5 separate regions of the Homo sapiens genome follow, and all the other regions are linked to region 1. The links come from fine-mapping of genetic effects on gene expression. A gene starts in region 1. Each other region holds a variant in brackets. All regions are shown on one strand. Distances are from middle to middle.

Evidence for each region. PIP is the estimated chance that this variant, and not a neighbour inherited with it, causes the effect. A credible set is the group of variants that fine-mapping cannot tell apart.
Region 2: its variant is the best candidate, but not a certain one, in a credible set for the expression of SIRPA in whole blood (TOPMed, PIP 0.87).
Region 3: its variant is the best candidate, but not a certain one, in a credible set for the expression of SIRPA in unexposed skin (GTEx, PIP 0.67).
Region 4: its variant is the best candidate, but not a certain one, in a credible set for the expression of SIRPA in whole blood (TOPMed, PIP 0.90).
Region 5: its variant is the best candidate, but not a certain one, in a credible set for the expression of SIRPA in monocytes (BLUEPRINT, PIP 0.83).

The regions. Positions count from the first base shown.
Region 1 is chr20:1,893,368-1,898,468 of GRCh38, forward strand. It overlaps SIRPA (signal regulatory protein alpha), which reads left to right and starts at 2,040. Exons shown (of 8, transcript NM_001040023.2): 1 at 2,040-2,159. The coding sequence starts at 2,081. It overlaps LOC102724545 (a long non-coding RNA gene), which reads right to left and starts at 883. Exons shown (of 4, transcript NR_186374.1): 1 at 752-883. RefSeq lists silencers at 1,004-1,263, 1,274-1,393 and an enhancer at 2,685-3,200.
Region 2 is chr20:1,951,611-1,956,711 of GRCh38, forward strand. The region is part of intron 2 of PDYN-AS1 (PDYN antisense RNA 1); the gene reads left to right. Among named protein-coding and RNA genes, the nearest start is that of PDYN-AS1, 7.0 kb to the left of the region's middle. RefSeq lists an enhancer at 2,903-2,992. The variant C/T (reference allele first, on the strand shown) is at 2,284.
Region 3 is chr20:1,864,400-1,869,500 of GRCh38, forward strand. No RefSeq gene overlaps it. Among named protein-coding and RNA genes, the nearest start is that of SIRPA, 28 kb to the right of the region's middle. The variant T/C (reference allele first, on the strand shown) is at 2,495.
Region 4 is chr20:1,844,605-1,849,705 of GRCh38, forward strand. No RefSeq gene overlaps it. Among named protein-coding and RNA genes, the nearest start is that of SIRPA, 48 kb to the right of the region's middle. The variant C/T (reference allele first, on the strand shown) is at 2,559.
Region 5 is chr20:1,835,327-1,840,427 of GRCh38, forward strand. LOC105372501 (a long non-coding RNA gene) reads left to right here. Exons shown (of 4, transcript XR_001754475.2): 4 at 1-1,215. Among named protein-coding and RNA genes, the nearest start is that of SIRPA, 58 kb to the right of the region's middle. The variant T/C (reference allele first, on the strand shown) is at 2,641.

The DNA.
Region 1 (5,101 bases):
GCCCCCCTGCACAACAGCAGGGCCATGCCTTCACCAGGAGGCTCGGGGCAGGAGGGGAGGCAGTGGTGTTACTTTGCACAGGTCTTTAACCTGGGAATCAGGAATTCAAATCTTGTTTCTACCCCAAGCTTTGCTGTGTGGCCTTAAGCAAACCTATTCCCTCTCCGGGCCTCAACTTTCTGTCCATTTACAGGGTTGGGCCTTCTCTCACCTTGTGTCATTCCTGTCCTCTTAACCGCCACTGTGTGAACCAAAATTCTCTCCCATTAGCAGCGGGGTCTTGAACTTGTGTTCCTCCCACAGTGCGGAGCCTTCTGCCAGGTGACCACGACACTGGCACTCCCCATCACTGACCTGGCTACTACAGGAACGGCGTTCCCTCCGGGAAAACCGGGGTTCTGTCCTCTCCAACTCCAGGCCTCTGGCCCCGGCTCCCCTTCCCCTCATCTTCCTCAGGGCTTGTCCTTCTCCCGGAACCCAGGCCTTCAGGGCCCCGCTCTCCCACACACGCCCCGGCCTGGGCCTCCCACCCGCCCAGTCCGCCCTCCACCACCGAGACACCTGGCCAGGGGGCCTCCACCTCCCTGGGAAGGCCCCGACCCTTCCCCTCTGGTTGCGCGCCACAGCCCCCTTCTCGCTCCCTCTCCTCCCCGCGCCTCTTTTCCAGGCGGCACCGAAGTCCTTCCTACACACACGCTATTTTTGTACCATCATCTCTTCTTCCTCTCCCCTTCCCCCTGCGTTCACTTACTTCCTTCTTTTCCTTCACCTCGGCCCGGCTCTGAAAGGATCGGGCCCCTCCGGCCCGCACCCACCCCCAAGAGGGGCCTTCAGCTTTGGGGCTCAGAGGCACGACCTCCTGGGGAGGGTTAAAAGGCAGACGCCCCCCCGCCCCCCGCGCCCCCGCGCCCCGACTCCTTCGCCGCCTCCAGCCTCTCGCCAGTGGGAAGCGGGGAGCAGCCGCGCGGCCGGAGTCCGGAGGCGAGGGGAGGTCGGCCGCAACTTCCCCGGTCCACCTTAAGAGGACGATGTAGCCAGCTCGCAGCGCTGACCTTAGAAAAACAAGTTTGCGCAAAGTGGAGCGGGGACCCGGCCTCTGGGCAGCCCCGGCGGCGCTTCCAGTGCCTTCCAGCCCTCGCGGGCGGCGCAGGTCCGGGCCCGGCAGGGACGGGGAGGGGCAGAGCGGGACCGGTCGGGGCTGGGGACCAGCCGCGCGGGCTTCTGAACGGGCACGCTGTCGGAGCCGGAGGCTCGTCTAGTCCCGAGCCCCAGCGGGCCGCGGCGGCTCGCGGGGCCGCCTTCCCGGGACAGCAGCCGGGGCCCGGGCGCCGGCGCGGGGGAGGACGCTGCCCTCCCCGGCCGGGCGCGCAGCTCGCAGCCCTCGCTCCCTCCCCCGGGGCGCGCAGGCGGGCGCTCGCTCGCAGAGAAGGTGCCGGCGGGGCCGGAGCCCCGAAGCCTCCCCGGGCGGCGGGAAGACGGGAGGAGGGGAAAGGGAAGGAGGGAGGGGGTCGGGCTGCCGGGAGGGCGGGGGCAGCGGCCGGGACTGCGGGCCGGGAGCGAGCCCAGCCGCCCGCGCCGTGTGGAGCCCGGGCGGGGCAGGTGGGCAGCGGCGGGGGCGGCTCCGCGCGGCCGGGCTCGGCCGTGCTGCCCCTCGCCCCTGCTCGCGCGGTCCTCTCTCCCGCGCGGTCTGTCGGTCTGCGCGCCGCCTCGCTCCTCGCTCCTCGCTCTCCCCCTCTTTCTCCCCCTCTCGCCTCTCCGTGTCTCTGGCTCTCTGCCTGGCTCCCTTGGGTCTGTTTCTCTCTCCTGCCGCCTCTCTCTGGCCGCCCCTGGCTTTATTTCTCGCGCGCTTGGGGTCTCTCCCAGTCTCCGTCTCTCCATTTCTCCTGGGGGGCGGGGAGGGGGGGTCTCCAAAAACCGCGGCGGCGGCGGCGGCCGCTCCAGGCGCCCGTTCCGGAGTCGGGGGGAGGCCCAGCCGGGAGGGGGGAAGGGGGGGAGCCTTAGTCATTTCCCCGCTCCAGCCTGCTCCCGCCCGAGCGCGCACTCACGGCCGCTCTCCCTCCTCGCTCCGCAGCCGCGGCCCATGGAGCCCGCCGGCCCGGCCCCCGGCCGCCTCGGGCCGCTGCTCTGCCTGCTGCTCGCCGCGTCCTGCGCCTGGTCAGGTAAGCACCCCCCCGCTCCCCACCGCTGCACTCCCCAAACTGCGGGCTCAGGCCTCTCAGACTGGCACTGGGACCCCTTCGGCTAATGCCGAGCAGTAATAGGGGGAGAGACGCCTGTAACCAGGGTTATAGATGCAGAAACTGAGGCCCAGAGAGGGCCAGCGACATGCCCAAGGTCACACAGCCAAGGGTAGAACCCAAGTCTCTTCTATGAGAGTTTGTCTCTGTGGACTCTGACTCTGTGCACTGTGCTGGGCACTGAGACAAAAGAGCCGAGTTGCTTCACTCAGCCCCTGCCCGGTCCAATGGGGAAGGCTGACTGACAGTGGCTTTCAGAGCAGGGCCGTCCGGCTTCCCCAGAATCTGTCCCCATGGACATACGACTTTCCACATGTTTGACTTCAGGGTGTGAGGGGAGGAGGTGAGGGCAGAGGTCCTCCCGATGCTGCCTGGAATGGAACAGAGACAAGCTGTTGCAATTAGGGAAGAGTGAGCCCTCCCTCTGGTGCGCAGAGTAAACCGGTGTTAGTGTGTGCCTGGGAGAGAGGGAGCCGGGAGGCCGCGGTAACCCCAGAGCGAGCTGCTGCGAGCAACAGATCCTTATGTAAAAACACGGTGGATTGTCCCTGTGGTTGCCAAAGCCTCTCCCTGGTGGTCTTGCTCCTTGAGGCGCTCCCAGCTCCCCCTTCCTCCTGCCTTCCCCGAGCTTCCAGGCAGCTCCCTGCAGTTCAGGTGCTCCGCGGGGATGTTACCTGTGGCTCTGACCATGTCTTTCTGTTGGCCTACATCAAACACCTGGCTGTCGCCGGCAGGCGGGCTCTGAAGGCTACTGTGCATGTTCACCAAAGGGTGAGGTCACCATTCAGGAGTCTTGCTTCTTAAATGGGTTTTGCAAAACCATGGGTCTCCTGGGAGGGCACCGGGTGGGGGGCGGGGGGAGCAGAGAAATGGCATTAAGGGAGTTGGGAGGGAGAGAAAAATGGGGATCTTGTTTTTTGTCGTCTTGAAACTGTGTTGTAGGCAGTGGGGTCTCTCTGTACCTCCCACCCTTGAGGAGGGAGGTAAAGATGAGCTCAGTGTCCAACACCCCCTTTTGCGTTTGACTAGAGATGGTAACCATCTGATAGCAGGGAGAAAGGGAGAACTAGCAAAGAGTGGGTGGAAGGAGAAGTATGGGGGGTAGACAGCTGCTTCTCTCTGCCCTGCAGTTTCCCCTGAAACCCAGGAATTCACATAGGCATCCCCCCACCCCACCCCACCCTCCACCCCCAGTTCTTTTCAGTTATAGTTGCGTCCTTGCTGGGCTGAAGGGAGCACTGATACAGTTCACGTCTCTCCAGTGAGTGGCATCTCCTATCTGCTCCTTCCTGCCTGAGCTGGCCATTTGTACCCTGCAAAAGTCCGAGTTCCTGCCCTGCCATCCTTCCTGGCCTGGAAATGCACAAGTGTCACTCACAAGTGCTTAATTTTCCTGAAGCAGGGAATTGGGCCCGAGTTAATTTCTAAATGTCTATTCCAGACCCTTCTCCGACCAGGAGGCTGTGGTTCAGTCCCTGGCAAACGAGCAGTGACGCTGATTAGCAAGTGCTCCGATGGGCAGCCTGCCTTTCCTGGGGCACCGGCTGGGAACACCAACACCTTTCTTGTGAGCACATCTCCCCCTTTTGCCTATAAAAACAGTCTATAAGATGGTAAAGATTGGGCCATAAAACTTCCGTTCCAATCCATTCAGCATCAATAGCCTGAAAAAGTGGGAGCAGCAGAGGGGCCAAGATTAGCTTTGAAATAAATAAATCTTAGGAGGTAAGAATGAATTTCTTGGTCGAGGGTGGTGGGGAAGGGATGAGGTGCGACCATCATAGCTCAAGTCTCCCATTATCCTTCAGTATCTGTTCTTCGGGGTCCTGGTCACACCATGGGCCTGGGCAGGGAAGTCACCTGGTTTGGCTGAAGGATGGGGCCTCAGGCCCCTCCCCCTATTGCTCCAGACATGGAATTTACAACAAAGAAGTAGAGAGACAGGATATGAGGGTAGGAAGGTACAAGGAGGCAGTTGTCCAATTTTCTAAGAAAATGGATTTGTTCGAGTGAGAAACTAAAATGTCAGGTTTAGGAAGGCGGCTTTGGATTGAATGACTACTAGTGTCTCAGGCAGAACTGTCAGCCTGGGAGGTGTCACATGATTCCTGTGTCTTCACATGATCACTGTTTTGGGGGGGTGGGGCCAATCATGTGAATTATCCTGGGTGGGGGAGGCAAGAGAAGAAGTTTCTAAAGATTGCTTTTAGCACAAATGCTGCCAAAGGGAAATTCTAAAAAGATCCCAGTGAAGTCACCAACCTATGTTTTTGGACCCAATGTGAGGCCTGTTTCCTAAAACAACTGCACTGAGGGAGATTCTGAGGCTGGGAGAAGGGCAAGGGACTGAGGCCTGGGGACACCTGGCACCTGATTTTGTGTCAGCAGGGCCTGACGCTGAACCCGCAGGATGCCTGCTTGGCCCCAGGTAGGCCTTGAGACCTCTGAGTCACCCCCCAGGCCGACCTCAGATAAACTCCCATTCATTTCTTCTCTCTGGCCTGGAGGAGGCCAAGCCAAGTTGCAGTTCAGGCTCTGGGGAGCAGCGGGGCCCCCCAGTGAACCTCTCACCGTTTGGTAGAGGGTGGCACTCTGGGGGCTCCTCTGTACTTTCCTAAATGGTAAAGTTAATCTCACTTCCTCTTTCGTAAGAAGAGAAAACGGGGCGGGAGTGCTTTGGCTCAACACATCAGGCTGTTGGAAGTTCCTTTAAAGCCATAGTTTTCTCTGAGTACTTTCTGGCCTTTACCAACCCCTCGGAAACTCACGGTAATTCACGTCTGTACTTGCAGTCATGCAGCACCTATGCAGTGCTGGTGTGAACCATGTGTTGAGAGAAGGGAGGAAAACCAACATTCATTAGA
Region 2 (5,101 bases), 58 kb after region 1:
GCCTTACGGGGCCTTGGTTTCCCTGTCTTGGCTACAGTGTGGAGCTCGGACATCCCCAAGGAGCCCACCGTCCACACATTGACGGTCGCTGCTTTTAACATAAAGTCCAGCTCCCCTAGTGAGGCACTGAAAGGCCCTGTCTGCCACCCCACCTCGCCTCCTGCCCAGCTCACACAGCCACCTGGAAGGACTTAAGAGTCCCTCCCAAAACAATCTCTTCTCACCTGTACCTTCACTCTTCTTGCCTGCCTTCCTTGTGTGCTGTTTAAACTCCTATTCACCCTTTATGCCTTTAATGCCACCTCCTCCCAGAAGCCTTCCCTGACCACTGCAGGAAGAGAGGCAGTTGCATTCACTTCCCTGTCACTTTGGGCCTCTTTGACAGTTTGATTACAATAAAATTACAGCTTATGCAAGTTTAACGTGTGCTTCAGACAAAAGAAAAAAGAAAAAATACAGAAAGAAAGACAAGAAGAGAGAAAGAAATTAAGTAAGGACCATGTGGCTCAATGGGCACACACCCTAAGTGGTTATGAGATAGAGGCAGAATCTGCTCTCTGAGGCTCAGTCCCCATAGGCCCCTCATCCTACAGCTACCTAAGGACAAGTCTTTAAAGATAAGCTGGAAAAAAACCCAAAAAACTGGCAGTATAGTGGGAAAGAATGAGGGACTTGGCAGACCAGACTACTCCAAATTCAGACTCCAGCTCCGCCACTTCCTGGCTGTACAACCCCGAGCAAGTTGCTAACTCCTCTGTGCCTGGGACTCCTCACCTGTAAAGTGGGCATAAGAAAAGTACCAACCTCATAAGGTTGTTGAGAGGATAAAATGAGCTTAACACCTGTGAAGTCCTCACAGTAGCTCCTAATCCACACTGGCACTAGATTATATTATGGTCCAGTATTACCCCAGCCAGTACCCTCTGTGGAAGGAAGAGGAACCTGCTCCTGGGCTGCAGGGAACCCCAACTGTGCTGGACTCACTAGGAGACTGAATATCAGTCCCCAACCTAGTGTCTCTGAGGATTTGCCAGGGGTACTTTTCATGACACTTGATTTTTGCTTTCCAAGCTGACTCGACTGGGTAGCACCCTCAGAGAAATCTAACCGTCAGATAGACAGTCCTGGGTGAAAATTCCCACCCACCATTTCTATAATAGTTGTGTGACCTTAAGCGAGTCACATTTTGTGTTAGCTCTGCTCGCTTCACCTGTCAAATGGAGACGATGATACCTACCCCCAGGGCATGAGGAGTTAACACCTGTGCTGATGCCTGCTACCTGGTAGACACCTGATACCAAGGCCGCTGTGATTAATTTACTCTTTCCACAGCAGCTGTTGTTACACTGTTTCATTTTCAGTTTACATGCTCTTCACCCCACAGCCTGGGAGCCCTCAAAGATGGGGACTCGTTCCAAGTCAGCTCAGGCTCCCATGGTCAAGTCTACACCAAAAACCAGGGAGGCACTCAAATATGAGAGGGGGATGGAGGGAGGGAGGGAGGAAGGAAAGGAAGGAAGGAAGGAAGGAAGGAAGGAAGGAAGGAAGGAAGGAAGGAAGGAAGGAAGGAAAAGAAGAAGGAAGGGAGGGAGGGAGAGAGAGAAGGAGGAAGGAATAAGAGGGGAAGGAAGGAAGGGAGGGAGGGAGGAAGGAAGGAAAAGAGAGAGGGAGGGAAGGAGGAAGGAAGGAAGAGAGGGAGGGAGGAAGGAAGGAATAAGCAATTAAATTCTTCATTCTCAGGCTCCGGGCTTATCTGACTGGTCAGAGGAATGGATCAGTAGCCCCCATTCATTCTCCTCTTTCTGGAGTCACAACTTAGGTTTGTAGCTGTCTAATTTATTATTATATGGTGCAGTGCAGGGTAATTATACACTGTGGTATAATTTGTTATAACTTGGGCTGAGGCCTATAACTGTATAATTTATTATTATACAGTACAGTGTTGAATAATACGAAGAGTATATAATTTATTTCAGGCTTACGAGCCTAACCTGTAATCCAAATGCAGCATGCAGCCTATGCAGATGAGTTAATGTTTCTACGGAAACCTCAACTTAGATATTTCTTCATCTCTAGTTCCTTTCTTTGGGCTTCTCAGAACACCTGTGTTACCAAGTTCCTGGTACTTTTTGTTTGGTGCAAGACTGACATGTTGGGTAGCCCTGGCCCAGGCTGAACCGGTCTTGCATATTGGGTCATGGGAAAGAAGGGTCCAGAGCTGTCACCCTGCCCAGTGACAGTTGTCATCACAGGGAGGCCGCAGCTTGCCAAAGGTATTACTGG[C/T]AGCAGATACAGAACCATGACCAGAACCCCCATTTCTGGGTCCCCAGGAATGAGGAGGCTTGCCGCACCTCCATCTATTTATTAGATAACTATTCTTTGCTCCGTTCTCAGCACTGGAAACACATCATGGGACCAGGCCCCTCGTGAAGCTTGCATTCTGGAGATTAAGAGCCTCCGTCTCTCTGGTCTCTTGTTTCTTAAAGTGTGGACTCTAGACCAGCATCTTCAGCATCCTCTGGGAGCTGGTTGGGAGTGCAGCATCTTAGCCGCAAGCCTCACTGAGTCTGCATTTTCTTTTTTTTTCTTTCTTTTTTTTTTTTTTTTTTTTTTTTTGAGAGGGAGTCTCGCTCTGTCGCCCAGGCTGGAGTGCAGTGGCGCGATCTCGGCTCACCGCAAGCTCCGACTCCTGGGTTCATGCCATTCTCCTGCCTCAGCCTCCCGAGTAGCTGGGACTACAGGCGCCCACCACCACGCCCGGCTGATTTTTTTGTATTTTTAGTAGAGACGGGGTTTCACCGTGGTCTCGATCTCCTGACCTCGTGATCCGCCCGCCTCGGCCTCCCAAAGTGCTGGGATCACAGGCGTGAGCCTCCGCACCCGGCCAAGTCTGCATTTTCACAAGACCCCCTGGTGATTCATTCACACTGAAGAAGAACTGCTGGAGTTGCTGTATGATTTAGGGGAACCATTTTCTTCTCTACTTCCCTTCTACCCAAAATATATACCATCTCACTGAGTATTGAAGCGGAGTTCCTTTTTTTTTTTTTTTTTTTTGAGACAGAGCCTCACTGTGTCTCCCAGGGGAGTGCAGTGGTGCAATCTCAGCTCACTGTAGTTTCCACCTCCCTGGTTCAAGCGATCCTCCCACCTCAGCCTTCCAAGTAGCTGGGATTACAAGCCTGTGCCACCACACCTGGCTAAATTTTGTATTTTTAATAGAGATGGGGTTTCACCATGTTGGCCAGGCTGGTCTTGAACCCCTGACCTCAAGTGATTCACCCACCTTGGCCTCCCAAAAAGTGCTGGGATAACAGGCGTGAGCCTCTGTGCCTGGCCCCTTCTTCTTTTTTTTTTTTTTTTAAAGAACATGTATTTTTTTCTTTTACTTTGGATGCAGAAGTTCATTATGTACCTTTTGGAATTATAAAACAAAAAAATATATATAAAAAAATCACCCAGAACCCCACCATTCAGAAGTGACACTGTTAATATTTTAATGACCAATCCATCAGACTTTTTTATACATACATATACTTTCTTTTTACAAAATTTCGAGAAAAGATGCAATAGTGTTGTATTCAGGCTCAGAAAATAATACCCCAGAATCTGGCGCTTTGACGTGCTGAACTGAAGAAGCGGTTTCAAGGTCTCTTTCTGACCTTGCCCTGCCTCCCTGTCTCTCTGATCCTCTTACTTTCCCAAAGCACCAGGAGGGGCTGTCGCTGGAATTTTCTTATCTGCCTAAGAAAGCTTCTTTCCAAGAGAAATGCAATTTCTTAAAACTCCCCGTCCCTAGGAATCTCATCAAATAACCAGGAAAGATTAACCACTGGAAAAGAGACTAGATGTAGTCACCGTGCTCAGACAGACTTTCATTTGTTTTTCTGAGAGCAGCTCCTAGAGATCACCTGGGACGCTTCATCTGCATAGTAAGACAATCTTTGTTTACAGTGAAGGTCTGCCCCTTACCTTCCCGCCACCTCCCCCAGAGCTCAGAAGAATTTTGTCTCAGGCAGTTGTTCTTTAGGATCACTCATTTCCCCTAAAAAGTCACTTACTCCTATACCTCCCATTTCCCCTTCCCCGATGAAGAAGGGCATATAAGGGTTATTGGGTAATCATTCTCCTATAATTCCCCTGTGTTACTCACATTAAATAATTTATTTTATTATTATTATTATTTTTTGAGAGGCAAGATGTTCTTCTGTTGCCTGGGCTGGAGTGCAGTGGCACAATCATAGCTCAACTGCAGCCTCAAACTCCTGGGTTCAAGTGATCCTCCTGCCTCTGATTACCAAGTAGCTGGGACTGTGGACACATATCACCATGCCTGGCTAATTTTTTAAAAAAATTTTTTGTAGAGACAGGATCTTGTTTTGTTACCCAGGGTAGTCTCAAACTTCCGGCTTCAAGTGATCCTCTCACCATGGCCTCCCAAAGTGTGGAATTACAGGCATGAGCCACCATGCCTGGCCTTGTTAAATACAATTTCATATGCCTTTTTCTTTTACTAATCTGTCTATTATAGTTCGTTTTCAGCAAACCTTAAGAGGACAGAGGAGAAGCTTCCCTTCGGCCCTTACAATTGCACAGTGGCTCTCAAAACTGAGCATACATTCACCTGGAAGGGTTGCTCAAACATAGATTGCTGGGCCCCACCCCCAGAGCTTTTGATCAGGAGGTCTGGGACCAGGCCTGGGATTTGGCACTTCTAACAAGTTCCAGGTGATGTGGGGCTGCTGGTCCAGGGACCACACCTTGGGAAGCACTGGACTCAGTGTTCTAAGATTTCCTGAGCACCAGTAGTTGGAATCCAGCTCTGCCACCCACTACCTGCCCACAGGGAAGTTAGGCTGCCTCTCCATGATGCAACTTCTGAGTCCACAAGGACAGTACCTGCCTCATAAGATTATTATTATTATAAGGATTATATGAGTTAATTAGTAAAGCACACAAGAAGTATTAATTATGATGAATATGCATATAATTGTTTAATCAAGATTTCTTAACAATTGTTCAAAAACATTTTTCAAGTCATTATTCTTCAATGTATTTGCTTTCAAAGGCTGTGGGCTTATCCTTCATAGTGATGTATTTA
Region 3 (5,101 bases), 29 kb before region 1:
GGGATGCTGTGGCTCCTGCTGCAAGGAGGCTGAGGGAGGAGGATCACTTAAGGCCAGGAGTTTGAGGTTGCAGTAAGCTAAGATCCCACCACTGCACTCCAGCCTGGGTGACAGAGCAAAACCTTGTCTTAAGAAAAATTAAGAAAAAAAAAAAGAATCCCAATGGGGCTCAAAGGCTGGGTGACAGTCCTCAGCACATCCCCCTCTCATAATGGGATAGACCTTCTTTCCAAATAAAGAGTCCTCTCTCAAGTAAACAGAGCTTCCCTCTATCCCTGATTAAAACTGGAAAGTGGCAAGAAGAAAATGTGTCAAGTAGGAAGATGCACATACAGGATGTGTTCATGCAGGGATATAACATTGATGGTGACCTTGTGTGAGCTACTTCACCTCCCCTGGCCTCAGTTTCCTCTTCTACAAGGTATGGTTCATAGAGGTGCCCATTGCATTATCTTGTAAGAATGTAATTCGATGATGCATGGTGATGCCTAGAAGTCACCTAATCAATATTACCTGTGAATATCGTTCTTTTCTGCAATATTGTTTTTTAGCATGGTCCACATGGGAGGCCCTGGGGAGACAGCAATCATCAAGCAGACTTGGTTCCTGCCCTCGTGCTGCCTCCAGCCTTGTGGACATGCTGAAATGCTTTATATAGAATGTTAAAGAGAGCCAGATAAAAAATTATGCATAGAGCAAGATTCTAATTTTGTTTAAACACACACACTCACAAAGGCCCAAGGGATATACACCAACATGTAATGATAGTTAACACCAGATGATGGAATTGAAGGTGGCTTGCAGTTTTACAATTCTTTCCTGGCTTTTTTTTCCTTTTAAAATTTTCACAGTGGATTGTATTATTCGAATAGTCATTTTTGAAAAAATAAAGGAAAACAAGAATGCTTCTTTCTCTGACTCTCTGCCCATCACAAATTTCATCTGTTTCCTCGGGAACCAGGAGCTCCTGGCATTAGGGGCTGTTTGCTTGTACATTCCAGGGTCTACCCACCAGGCAGCCAGGTCTCAGGTCCTGGCCTCATTCCCTACTGTGGTGCACATTTGAAAAGGGGCTGGGGGTTGGGGTGGCCTCCATCAGAGCAACAAACCTGGACTGAATGATTGGTGAGTATGAAGAGGGGAGCCCTCTCTCAACCTGGGATCAGCTACCTGTGAAGACATGTTCTGTCCCAGGAGTCAGAGGGGAGAGGTCTGTGTTTATCCATCTACCTGTGATTGCAAAGGTAAGGCTGTCCAACTCTGAGGATCAGTGTTAGCAGTTCCATTTGCCTGCATGCCCAAGCCACGTTCTCTAAACAGCTTTATCTGTAATAAGCTGACATTTTGTTCCTCACCTCTTGACTCCTCGGTCTCCTACTGCTTCTGAACTTAAGTGAGGAAGAAAGCAACATTATATGTAGATGCCATAAAAATCACATAGTCCATACCTGGCTCCTAGAAATTGGCTATTAACAAAGAGATTAGACACCTATTTTTCTCAAGTTTCCTCTTTTTTCCTTTTGACACCTTGCTTTTCTCTTTTCCTTTTGACACCTAGGACTGTGAGATAGACCCAATGTTCTTGGAAAGATCTAGTAATCTCTCCTGTAGCGAACTTGACGGTATTGTCTGTCTGAGTCCCTTTTTCGGAAAATGGTCCCTCCTCCACACCATGTAAACTTGGGGTTTCCATCAAGATCACCAAAACAAGAGTGGTCATGGGTCCCATTCAGGACCAAAGTGATTTTCTGGGATGAGTATGTGGCATAGATATGGATACATAATATATGTAGGTATATGACATGTATATGATAGATATATATACATGGATGTATGATGTGTATAGAGGATATATGACATATATATGATATATATAGGATATACAATATATGACATATGTGATATGTACATGGATATATGATATATAGAGAGGATACATGATATATGACATACATATTATAGATGTACACAGATAAATGATACATATGCCTCGCTCCTGCCAGCCTTGCTGGGCTTGTTGCATACATGTTTGGGTGTACCTGCTGGTGGCCTGCTTCCCTACCACACATTGACAGCCTGCCTGGAGGCTAAAGCCAACCAGAAAAGATGACCCTGTTGAGTTCCTGTATCCAGCCATTCCTGAAACCACCTTCCTAGACCAGAACCAATACATTCCCTCTTTTCCTTAAGTAGTTTGAGTTGGGTTTTTATCAGTTGAAGCTAAAAGAATCCTGACTAGCATACTGCAGTGAATATATACCGGTTAGAAGGCTGTGACCACCCAGAATCCATGCCCCCTTCCTAAGTAACCCTCATTGTTTAGGAAAATCACCTCTCCTCCATTGAATTCACCTGGGGGAACTGCTGGGCATGACACTGCTCCTTCCTTCACTCCTAGGTCACTACCTACACCCCCACACAAGACCAGGTGAATTGGCCATGAATCCCTTCCAGGCCTGCCCATAAAACCTCCCCCATGCTCCTCCACACCCTG[T/C]CTTTTCCTCTCCTCTGCCGGGGGATGCAGAAGATCAAAAAAGAAATCAAGATCCCCTCCCCTGGATGGAAGGACCTGGGTCTCTGAGTGACCATGAGGAGTTGACCTACACTGGACTGTGACCTGAGTGACAAGTAAACAGATTATGAGTCACTGAGATTTGGGGGTTGTCTGTAACAGCAGTTATCCTGCCCTAACTAACACAATAGGCTGGCACATTGGAGAGCTACCTGAGAGCCATTATCCTAAGAGCTTTCCATTCAACCACGAATATTTACTGAGTCCCTATTCTGTGCTTGCAAAGCCCCCTGTGTTTCCTGTTCTCCTGCACTGCCCACGATTGCCTCTCTCCTCGTCTGGCTGTCTTCTCTCTCTAGACGGTAAGTTCCCCAAGAGATGGGTCCTTATCTGTCTTCATCCTCTGCACCGTGTCCCTGGTATCTAGTTTAGCATCAGGAACATAGCAAGTGCTCCGTATTGATTGATTGGATTTGCAAAATGACCAGATGCATAAAGTTGTCATGAGGCTTAAGCGAGGTTCTGATTGTGAAGCGTCATGGCACACAGGAGGTCCCCTGCAAATACAGTAAAAATGAGCTAAATCAAGGTGCATGTGGGCTGGGCAAGGCTTTCAGTGGGAGGGCAGATTTTAGCCAGGACTTATCCTGCCCTATACCCTACAGAGAGCTAAGTTATCTCTGGTCCTGGCTGGTCCCAGGCTCTATGCAGGAGGAAGGATGGGGACCAGCTGCTTCCTGGAGGGAGCCCCAGTCCCAGAGGCTTTGAGCTGTGGTAGGGGTGAGGCAACACTTCAGGAAATAACATTTCAAAGGCTTTGGCTGTGAGAGCAGACTTCTCACCCCTGTCTTGTGTGGAGGTGGGTGTGGGATGCCTGGTGTGCCTCTGGGGTAAAGCATCCCTTTCACGGTTTGAAATCTCATCTCGGGAAAGCTTAACTCCTTGTACCCCATTCTACTGGCTATAGACAGGCTCCAGGGATTTAGCCCAAGACTCCTAGGATAATGTCCAAACTCCATACCTGGGGTAGGAATGGGGGCAGGTGCAGCATGTCCAGCATGATGCAGCAGTTAACAGCCTGGGCTCTGGAGGCAGAATGCCTGGGTTCAAATCCTGGCTCAGTTCACATGGTAGCTGTGAGACTTTGGATGACTCAGCTTATCTGGACCTCAGTTTTCTCATCTGTAAAATGGGATTATAATAGTAACACACTAGAAGATTGTTAGGAAGATGACCTCGCTTTGACAACTAATGGAGTGTTCTTTTCTTTTCTTTTCTTTTCTTTCTTTCTTTCTCTTTCTTTCTTTCTTTCTTTCTTTCTCTTTCTTTCTTTCTTTCTTTCTTTCTTTCTTTCTTTCTTTCCTCCTTTCCTTTCCTTCCTTTCCTTTCTTTCTTCTTCTTTTTTCTTTTTTATTTCAGATCTCACTCTGTGCCCAGGCTGAAGTGCAGTGGTGTGATATCAGCTCACTGCAACCTCTGCCTCCCAGATTCAAGCAGTTCTCCTGCCTCATCCTCCCAAGTAGCTGGGACTACCAGTGCGCACCACCACACCCAGCTAGTTTTTGTATTTTTTTTAGTAGAGATGGGGTTTCACCATGTTGGCCAGGCTGGTCTCGAACTCCTGACCTCAAGTGATCTGCCTGCCTCAGCCTTCTGAAGTGATGGGATTATAGGCATGAGTCACCACACCTGGCCAAGTGTGTTTCTTAAATGTTTTAATTCCTAACATGGTAACTATCAATAGATAAACTGACATAAACAAAATTCTTTGGGGTCCACAGTAATTTTTAAGAGTATAAAGGGGTCCTAAAACCAAAACATTAAAATCCAGTCTCATGTGATAACTTCACACTACACATGCCAGATGATTCACCTGGCGTCAATTCTTCACTTCCTCCTCTCCTCCCCCGACCGGCCATGACCTAGTTTGGACCCTGTGCTCTGTCCAAATGAGCAACTGAGGCACCTACCCAAGGAGGCCATGAGGATTCCTCCCTCCACACCCCTGAACAGCAGCTGTCTACCCTGAATTCTGTGGTTTCACTATCCTTAACGAAATTGTACTTACTCTGCAAGGCCCAGGGGCTTCTGCCTCCTGCAGGAAGCCTGGCTGACTGCCCTAAATGGAGCCCTTGGTCCTCTGAGCTCACACAGCACTGCCCAGTCATGAGGGCAGATGGCCAAGGCAGCTTCATCAGTTTTGCTTGTGAAAGCCCATCTTCTCACTAGACTGCACGCTGCCTCTGGCTTTGGGGTCAGAACAGAGCTGAACTGGGTCATGTTGGGCAAGTCGCTGTCCCTCTCTGAGCCTGTTTCCTTATCTGCAGAATGGGGTAATTATGAGACTTACTGTGCAGATCTTGTAAGGACTGGATGAGCAAATGCACTGGATTAATTTGCTAGCGCTGCCATAACGAAGTATCACACTCGACCAGCCGCTGTGGCTCATGACTGTAATCCCAGCACTTTGGGAGACTGAGGCGGGTAGATCACTTGAGGTCAGGAATTCAAGACTAGCCTGGCCAACATGGTGAAATCTCCTCTCTACTAAAAATACAAAAATTAGCAGGGCATGGTGGCGGGTGCCTG
Region 4 (5,101 bases), 49 kb before region 1:
GCAAAGGCAAGTGCAAAGTCCCTGAGGTGGGCACATCCCTGGTGTACAGGAGCAATGGCCACCGTGGCTAGGACACGTTCTAGGGGGAGAGTGGTGGGCTTGGAATGGTGAAATCCCTTGCCTCACAAGTAGGGCAGCTGAGAGCAATATCTTGGGCCTGTCTGACTGTAAAGTGAAGCTTTTAACTGCAAAGGGCCTGACACTCTTTCTAGTGAGGAAAGCCAGAAAGGGTGAGCGTATGTTATTACCAGGCATTGCGCCAAACACGTTGGGGAATCACATGGGGGAAGCCCCCACCCTTCTGGGGCTGCTGCTGCCGTAGAGAGGAAGGGAAACTGAGAAGTCAGCTAAGAGCCTGAGCAGATACTATAAGAATCCATCGTGATTGCTGTTTTCCGTTTCTCTGTGTGTTGGTTGTGGAAGGAGTCTTAGCACGTGTACACACAGCATGTGCATTCCTACCTCTGAGTGTGTCTGCCTGAGTGTTTATGGCTGCATAGGGGTCTTGAGTCTGCTGCCCACAAGTTAAACAGTGGTTTACTTAGCCCTCCCCAACTGTGTGAATGCAAGTGTGCATGGGCATCTTCATCTTGTCTTTGTGTTTATACATCTCTGTGTTTATACATCCCTTGTCTTTGTGTTTATACATCCCTTTGTGTTTATACATCGTCTTGTCTTTGTGTTTATACATACCTGGGAAGGTATCCATGTTCATCAGGAGGCATGTATCCATGTCTGCATGTCCAAAATGAGTGTGTGTCATTGTGCATGTGTTTCATGGATCTGCACAGCTGTTAAGAGTTCTGTCTCTGTAGCCTGACTCCCTGGGTTGGAATCTAGGTCTGCCACTTACTGGGTATGACCTTGAGCAAATTACTCAACCCCCTCTCTGCTTCACTTTCCTTATCAGTAAAATGGGCATATTAATAAAACATACCTTATAAGGTTGTTGTGAGGATCAAACAAATGAATATATGTGGAATGCTCGGATTGATGCCTGGCACATACTAGGAGCCATGTGTGAGCCGTTGTGATGTTAGGGCTCTTTCTGCGTGCATGTGTCTGTCTGGGTCTATCTGGCTGACTGAGCACACTTGCCCCAGCTGATATGCCTCGTAGCATGCAAGTTGGCATGCCTAAGTTCACACCTTACCTACGTCTCTGTGTGCACAACCTCAGTCTTAGCCCCGCATGTGCAGTGCCCAGCCTCCTCTGCCTGACAAGAGCAAATGTGGCTGGCTGGGGTGGGGACTGGAGGAAGGGCCAGCAGGAGGGGGCTCCTGCCATGGCCTGGCCAGCTGGACTTTTCACAGCCCAGTGACTTTGTCCCTCTGATCGGCCAAGTGGCTAGACAGGCAGGCAAAGGAAGTGCCCCTCTTCCAGGCTGTCCCCGGCCTGTGCCATCTCTATCCCTGATCACAGGGATTGGGTTTACACGCCTGATGCCCCTCGGGATTGGGGGATCCAAGAGAGCAGAGTCAGGCCTGAGCCACCTTTGTGTCCCCACATCATAGCTGTCACTGTTAATGATGGCTAACACTTACTAAGGACTGGCTGAGAGGCAGGCACTGTATTGGTTCTGTATTGATACATGGTCTAACTTGCCAATCCTCATGCCATTTCCCTGAGATAGGTCCTTCCATTGTCCCCACTTCATGGGTTTGGAAACTGAGGCACAGAGAAGCGAATTGTTTACTTAACTCACACAGCTGGTAAGTGAAGAGACCAGAATCCAAGCTGATTAAATACATGTTAAGTGACCCAGCTCATTGAATGAGACACAGAAGAGCCATGTTTGGGATGGAGTGGAAAGATGGAGAACAAGGTGGAGAGTGGTTCTGGCAGAGGAAGGGGCCAGCTTGGCTCTCTGCAGGGGAGCCCTGGGAATGGGAAGGAAAAAGTGGATGGGGCCAGATGGTAGGGGTCTGGAAGGCCAAGTGGGGAAGCTTGCATCTGAGCTGGCTCTACTCTTCAGAGACCTGGCCACAGTGAGGTGCCATGGGGACCGGCCACCTGGATCCTTCATTGTGAATAAACTGGTGAACTGAGCCCAGGTCTCTGGGAGAGCTGGTAGCTAAAGGCAGACTAACAGAACAAAAGCTCTGCTGTCAGTCTGAGGTTGGAATCCCAATGCCCTCACCCCCTGGTCACTTCCTACTATGAAACTTCCATTTTCTCATCCAATTCAACTTGTTAAAATGGTTAAAGTCATCCATTATCCCAATGTCTGACATATAGTACTCAATAAATGATCATCCACTCTGAAACAGGGGCTTTCAAATAATGGTAATAAATAGATTAAAGGATCTAGCAGAAAAGGTAGACAACATACATAAACAGATGGGAAGTTTCAGAAGAGAGAAGGAAACTATGAGAAACAAAAGAGAGAGAGAGCTGACTGGAAGTGCTGGAACCAGCAAGAAAAAGATAATATCAAAGAGGAAGAATTCTGTTGATGGGATTAGCAACAGACTGGACACAGAGGAGGAAAGTGAAACTTAGTGATGGGTCAACAGAAATTCTCCAAACTGAAAAGAGAAAAGAATGAAAATTCACAA[C/T]GTAGCTTTCTTAGATTTGTTAAGAGGGTGAAGGCCAGTGTCAGACACATTGGATTAAGTAGTACCATTCCTTCAACCATTTAACAGAAGTACATTGAGCTCCTATTATGCACCAGACAGTGTTTACAGTGCTAGAATCTCAACAGTGATGAAAAGGACAAGGTCCCTGCCCTCAGGGAGCACACAACCTAAGGGAAGGATCAGACTCCTAAATAAGTAAAATACATACATAGTATATTAGATGGTGTATTAGTCTGTTCTCATGCTGTTAATAAAGACATACCTGAGACTGGGTAATTTATAAAGAAAAGAGGTTTAATTGGCTCACAGTTCCACATGGCTGAGGAGGCCTCACAATCATGGCAGAAGGTGAATGAGGAGAAAAGTCACGTCTTACATGGCGCAGGCAAGACATCTTGTGTAGGGGAACTCCCCTTTATAAAACCATCAGATCTCATGAGACTTATCACCATCATGAGAACAGCACAGGAAAGACCAACCTCCATGATTCAGTTACCTCCTACTGGGTCCCTCCCATGACACATGGAAATTATGGGAGCTACAGTTCACGATGAGATTTGGGTGGGGACACACCCAAACCATATCAGGTGGTGATGTGTCCTATGGAGAAAAAGCACGGGAGCAGGCCAAGAAGAGTAGATTCAGGGGATGCAATTTTAAATAAGGCGGTAGGTCAGGGAAGGCCTCAATAAGAAGGTGACATTTGAGCAAAGACCCAAGGGAGGTAATAGAGGAACCAGGCAAATATTTGGGGGAAGAGCATTCCAGGCAAAATGAACAGCTGGTGCAAAGGTCCTGGGGCATAAATGTTCACAGACAGTTATGCCCCAGGGAAAGCCCAGAGGCTGAGGTGGCCAGAGAGGAATGATCTTGAATGATGGAAAACAAGGTCAGAGAGGAAGGTAAATGGGAGGTGGCCCCCCACCACCCCAGGAGGGAAGCAGATTATCATGTAGGGATTTTGGCTTCAGCTGTGAGATGGAGGCCTTTGGAGGATTTCCTTCAAAAGAGCCACATGACCTGACTTCTGTTTTAACAGGATTCCTCTGGCTGCTACCTGGAGAATGGACTGGAGGGGCCCAGGGTGGAAGCAGGGAAGCCAGTGGAGAGTCTGTGGTGACGATCCAGGTGAGATATGGCACCTGGGATGAAGGTGGTAGCCATAGAGATGATGGCAGCTTTTAGATTTGGGGTGCATTATGATGGCTATGCTGATGTCAGGAGAGCTCTTATTGTTTTTATATGTGTTGCTGTTATTAGGGCTAGCCAGGCTCCCACAAACTTTTTTCAAGGAGCCCCAACCCAGACAAGCAGGAGTGAAGCTGCTCACCTGGCCCCACCTGCCAGGGGAATCTTGCTGCACTTGTTGGGTAGCTGGTGGCCAAGGTCCATCTCCCCAGAGCCCAGCCCTGTAGGCTCCTCACCCTCCAGGCAGCCCAGGGCAGCTGCAGGCTCAAGGTTGCTCTGAGCAGCCCCCAGCTCCACAGCTGTAAGGTTCTAGTTGTTGGTTTACTCAGAGGCAGCAGATTCATCTGGAGAATCTGGTCCCTGCAGCCCCAGGTGCCCTCATCTCACTTCCTAAACATTCATGAGAGGGGAGGCGGGCAACCTCCTCAAGACACCTCGACTCAGATGCCTGATTCCTGCCGCCACTTGTCCACAGCACTGCCCCATCTGGCTCCTGCCCTCCACCTGACGGCTGTCATGGGCTCCTGCTGGTACCCCTGCATCCATCCAACCCTTTCCCATCCACCCCACTAAGAGCAGGAATGGGCCATTCTGAAGAGGGTGACAATGTCACTCAGCGAGTGCTTAAAACTCCACCATAGCTCCCCCTGGCCTGGGATAACATCTAGAACATTAATAGTGGCCTTCAAGGCCCTGTGTGATCTGGTCCCACTCTTCATGGCCTTCTTGTCCCCCCACCCCACCACCACAGTACTTGCCAGCTGTAAGAAGCTGTACCTAAAGCACCCCTGCAGAACTTTGCACAGTTGCTCCTCCAGGTTGCTCTAGCATGGAATCCTCTTCCTGCCCTTCTCTACCTGGCAAACTCCCACTTCTCTGTCACCTCCAGGGTCACTGCCGTCTTCTCCAGATGGCTGGAACTCACCCCAGGCTAGGCTCCCTGCTGGCTCCCACAGCTCCCTCTGCTCTCCCTCCTTATTCAGCTGCACTATATTACAAGGATAATGACAACACATTGGCAGGCATGCCCTGCTCCCATTGTCCATGGCAGACATCACTAAACGATCAGGGTGTTCTTCCCCCCTGAGCCCGGATATGGCCTCAGGAATGCAGCATTCTAGAGCTCATGGTAATCAAAAAGAGGTCGGGTGCAGTGGCTCACACCTGTAATGCCAGCACTTGGGAGGCCAAAGCGGAAGGATTGCCTGAGGTCAGGAGTTCGAGACCAGCCTAGCCAACATGACAAAACTCTGTCTTTACTAAAAAAAATAAAATAAAAAATTAGCTAGGCATGGTGGCGGGCACCTGTAATCCCAGCTACTCAGGAGGCTGAG
Region 5 (5,101 bases), 58 kb before region 1:
TTCTCTGGCCAAGAAAATTTGCCAACCCTTGGCTTAAAAAAACACAGGTTTGCTTCTTACTCCGGTTCCCTGTCCATCTCCAGTTGGCAAGGCTTCTCCTCCATAACGTCCACAGTCAGGGGCCCAGGCTGGCGAGCCCTCCCTTGAAGAACCCGCCAGTCTCCCTGGCAGGGGATGCAGACAAAAAATTGCTCACCAGCTCTTGAGGCTCCCATCAGAAAGAGACACACCTCACTTCTGCTCACAGATCTTGGCAGAAATCAAGTGCCAAGGACGTGCCTAACTTCAAGAAGGCTGGAAAGTACAGCCTCTCCACGCACCCCACATGAGGAGACCCAGAAATGGACCCAGATGGTGGATAGCACTCCTGACAACTGCGGCATGCGAACACGGCAAACGGTTGTAAAACAAAGGAATGAGGACACCGCTGGGTCTTGCAGCAAGCTTCTCCAGAATCCCTCCTGTGCACAGGGCTCAGGGAAGCCAGACAGGATTACACCCGGGGGTGGAGAAGCTGGAGAGAATGCATGTCACATGCACGCTCGGCCACTACCCTTTTTTATGGCCTCCATGGAAACAGAAGCAGAAACCAGAGGGTCCCTAGGAGCTCCAGCCACACCCACTTCTCATTCTCTGGGGACAAATGTCTGAGGGCTCCCTTCTCTCTCCATCAGGGTCCAGAAGCTGGCCAAGGACTGAAGAGGCTTTGGCTCAATTTATGACTTTATTACCAGTCGCCTTCCAGCTGTGAGCCTCCACTTCCCCAGCTGCAACAATCTGTGGGTCTCAAGGTGAGGTCCTGTGACTGGCAGCATCGCCATCACCTGGAAACTGATTAGAAATCCACATTCTCAAGCCCCACCCAGCTCTATTGAATGGGAAGCTCTGGTGGAGGATCCCAGAAATCTGGACTTCAACAAGTGTCTCCGGTGATTCTGATGCTTGAGGAATATAAGGCACAAACGAACTGAGATGTGCAAAGCCCGGGCCCGCACTGCTTTTCCAGCAGTCCTCCCCACCTGCATAAATGACAGTTTCATTCTGGTTTAAGCCAAAAACCTGGAGCCATCCTAGAGGGTTCTCAGACCCTAATCCTGTGGCTTAGCCTTTAGAATATATTCAGATCTTGGCCTCCCTCTCCACCTCCTTCACTCTGCGTGGCCCTAGCCTCTGCCATCTGACACCCACATACTACCTTGCCTTTCTAACCCCCGCTCCCTCTTCCTTTGAGCCCTGTAGTACATCCTCACTCCAGCAGCCAGAAGATGCTCTTAAAAACTCAATCAGATGATTCCACGCTTCTGCTCAGAACCTCCAATGGCTTCCATCTCACTCAGAAGAAAACCTGACAGGGCCGCCCTTGGTCTGATTCCCACTGACCTCTCCACCTCCCCAACGCCCTGCCGCTTGCTTGCCGTCTCCAGCTGCACTGACCTGTTCTCTGTTCCTCCAACATGCCAGGCACGCTCCCGCCTCAGGGCCTTTGCTCCCGCTATTTCCTCTGCCAGAAACCCCTCTCTAGTGATCCCCACACGGCCCAAGCCCTCACCTCCTTCAGATCACCGCTCAAATGTCACCTCCTCAGAGAAGCCTTCTCCGACCCCGCCATCCTGCGCTGCCCCCTCCTCTGGCTTTGTTTTTCTCCATAGCCCTCACCACCACCTGACACACATCTTTGTTGTTTCTCTGTTTATAGTCTGCCTCTCCCCACGAGGGTATGAGGGCCACGAAGCCAGGCACTGCCTGCTTTGTTCACTGCTGTATGCCTCCCAATGCCTGAATATTGCCTGGCATGGAGAAAGCCCTGGGTAAATATTTATTGAGTGAACAGACGGATAGGTAGGTAGACAGATGGATGGACGGAGAAATGCTCATTCCTTGGGCCTTGCTGTGGTCAGCACGAGGCAGCCCCCATGGGCACGCCCCAAGAGTTACACCACAGAAAGACCCCAGGATTGAGGGCTGGGTCCTTGTATGCCGCTCTGGGATCAGCAGGTCTGGGTTCAAGTCTCTTGAATTGACCTGAAGGAAATCACATAACCTCTCTGATCCTCAATTTTCTCATCTCTAAAATGGGGATGATGCTGATAATGTGTATCATGTGCCTTAACCTTATAGGACTGCAGCGAGGACTAAACAAGGTGCACGTGAAGGGTTGCAGCGTGATACCCAATACCTGCTAAATCCACAACACACAGGAATTACTGCTGCCCCTATTGCTTTGCTTTCTTCTCAATTTTGCCAGTGGCCTGGGGTACTTGGGCAGCCATAGGGCTTATTGGGAGTATAACTGGCTCCAAAGAAAGGGACTTGGGTTTGAATCCTTGCAGCTACTATCTCGCTATATGACTTTGTGCAAGTCACTAGCCCTCTCTGGGCCTCAATTTCTCCCTCTGAGCAATGGGAAAAGGGTATTGAAGGAGGTTGTTTTGTGATCCCTGCAACTTGCCTCCCCAAGTCCTTCTGGAGGACCAAGCCCACGCTCGCCAAGCCCTCTCCTCTTCGTGGCTGCAGTGGGGAGGCCCTGAAGCTGAGGAGGCTGGCTGGGGCTCATGCTGACTCCTCCCCTAGCCTCACTGATTCTGCAGGGAGGGAAGAGAGAGGCAGTACTGGGTTGTGGCTGAAAGCACCCCAACTCCA[T/C]GTCTAAACCGGAGTTCTCCCTCTGGTTTCTGTGATTTGAGTGAGTCACTTAACCTCTTGTGCCTTAGCATCCTCATCTGTGAAATGGGAATAATTATCACCTATGAGGATAAAATAAACTGCTGCGTGTAAAGTGTTTAGACAAGTGCTTGGCACACAATTATCACTATTATTATAATAGCTGCTATTATTTCTAACAACCACAGCTGGTCTCTGGACCAGGCACCATCAGAAGTTTTTATAAACTTTGATTTAATTTTCACAAATATTCTACGCCATTATTGTCTCCATTTGAGAGGTGAACAAGTTTGGCTCAGAGACTGAAGCCATTTGCCCAGGGTCCCACAGCTTGCAGGTGGAGCTGGGTTTGAACCCAGTGCACTCTCAAGCCTGGTTCTTTCCACTCACCATGCTGCTTTCCCTTCGCTCTCCGTTTTACTGATGGGGAGACAGAGGGTTACAGAGCTCACTCCCAGGCCTCAGTCCTGCTGGGCCCTTTCACCCAAAGCATTCCTGGATCCATGCAACATCGTACCTAGAGGCAGAACTAGAGGCCATGATGACTCCTATTCACAAAGAGGCTGCTCAGTGTGAGGGGCAGAGCAGAACCTGGCCTGGCTGCCAACAGGTGCATGGCCAGGTCTCCAAGGGAAGTGGCCCCAGCAGCTCCCAGGCAGCCAGCCCCCCCTCAGCTGGGCAGCCCCTGATCCTCCTCCCATCCCCCTGCTTTATGACCTGTTTTATGAGCGGGAGGCCTGGCAGCTTCCACGTTGCCATGGGAACCAGCCCAGTGCGGGCTCCTGGCAGCTCAATCAGGGATTGGCAATTTTAAGTCAGGAGCCAATCCTGGGGCTAGCGAGGGTTTCCATGGGTTGGGGTCTGTGGGCCCCAGGGATGCACAGTGCCTGCCTGACTGTCTGCCTCTCTCCTCTGCTCCAGCTCCCCAGGTGCCCAAAGAACTCAGGGACCCCACAGCTGGAAGATGACAGGCTGTTAGAGCCCTGGAGGAGCCTGGGGCAGCAGGGAATGACATGGACCACCGAGTGGGGGCTGGGAGAGCTGACAGAGCTGGACCGTGGACACACATGCTTAGGGGCACACAGAGACACTAGGACAGCTGACATGAAGGGACTCACAATGATATACAGATACAGACTCACACAGAGAAACAGAGATATGCACATGGCAGCCACATGTGCATAGCAAAGAAAGGTACTTGCAAACACACAGACATACACAAATCCATAGGAATACCTGGGTGCCCAGAGACTCACAGACACACAGACATCCAAAGACACACACAGAGGACACTTGGACACCCAGAGATACATCCAGACATACACATAGACACACAAAGGACGTACAGACACACACTGCTCACTGCCTGTGTGGTCCAGGCAGCTTGCCCAAACTCTCTGAGACCCAATCGCATCATCTTTCAAAAGGGCATCACAATCCTAGCTTGTGAGGACAGGGAGGAATAACGAGGAAAATGGCTGCGTGTGCTCAGACACCTTCATTCATCCAGCCAGACAATATTATTGAGCATCTACTATGTGCCATGTGCCTCCTCCGAGCTGAGAACAGGAAGCTAACAAGGACCTACCCTCAGGAAGCTCACAGTCTCCTTCGGAAGACAATAAATACAGGAACAAAGCAACAGCTAAGAGTGACTCGGAAGACAATAAATATAGGAACAAAGCAACAGCTAAGAGTGACTCGGAAGACAGTAAATACAGGAACAAAGCAACAGCGAAGAGTGACTCGGAAGACAGTAAATACAGGAACAAAGCAACAGCGAAGAGTGACTCGGAAGACAATAAATATAGGAACAAAGCAACAGCTAAGAGTGACTCGGAAGATAGTAAATACAGGAACAAAGCAACAGCGAAGAGTGACTCGGAAGACAATAAATATAGGAACAAAGCAACAGCTAAGAGTGACTCGGAAGACAATAAATATAGGAACAAAGCAACAGCTAAGAGTGACTCGGAAGACAATAAATATAGGAACAAAGCAACAGCTAAGAGTGACTCGGAAGACAATAAATACAGGAACAAAGCAACAGCTAAGAGTGACTCGGAAGACAATAAATATAGGAACAAAGCAACAGCTAAGAGTGACTCGGTGGAGGAACCGGTTAGGGTAGTCAGGGAACACTTCTCTGAGGAGGTGACATTCGCCTGAGACAGAAGGAATGTGATGGAACTGACCAGAAAGGGTAGAGAGAAGAGTGTCCCAGTTAGCGGGAACAGGAGGTGCAAAGGCGCTGAGGTCAGAGCAGGGCTCCATGTGGCCAAGAAGCCCCAAGGAGATCAGTGTGGCTGCAATGGAGGGAGGAGACAGGGGATGAGTTTGAGAGTAACTGGAGGCCGGAGCAGGCAGGGACTTGAAGACTGAGTGATGTACTGTGGGTTTCATTCTCCATAAAATGGGACCCACAAAAGTGTTTCTATCAGGG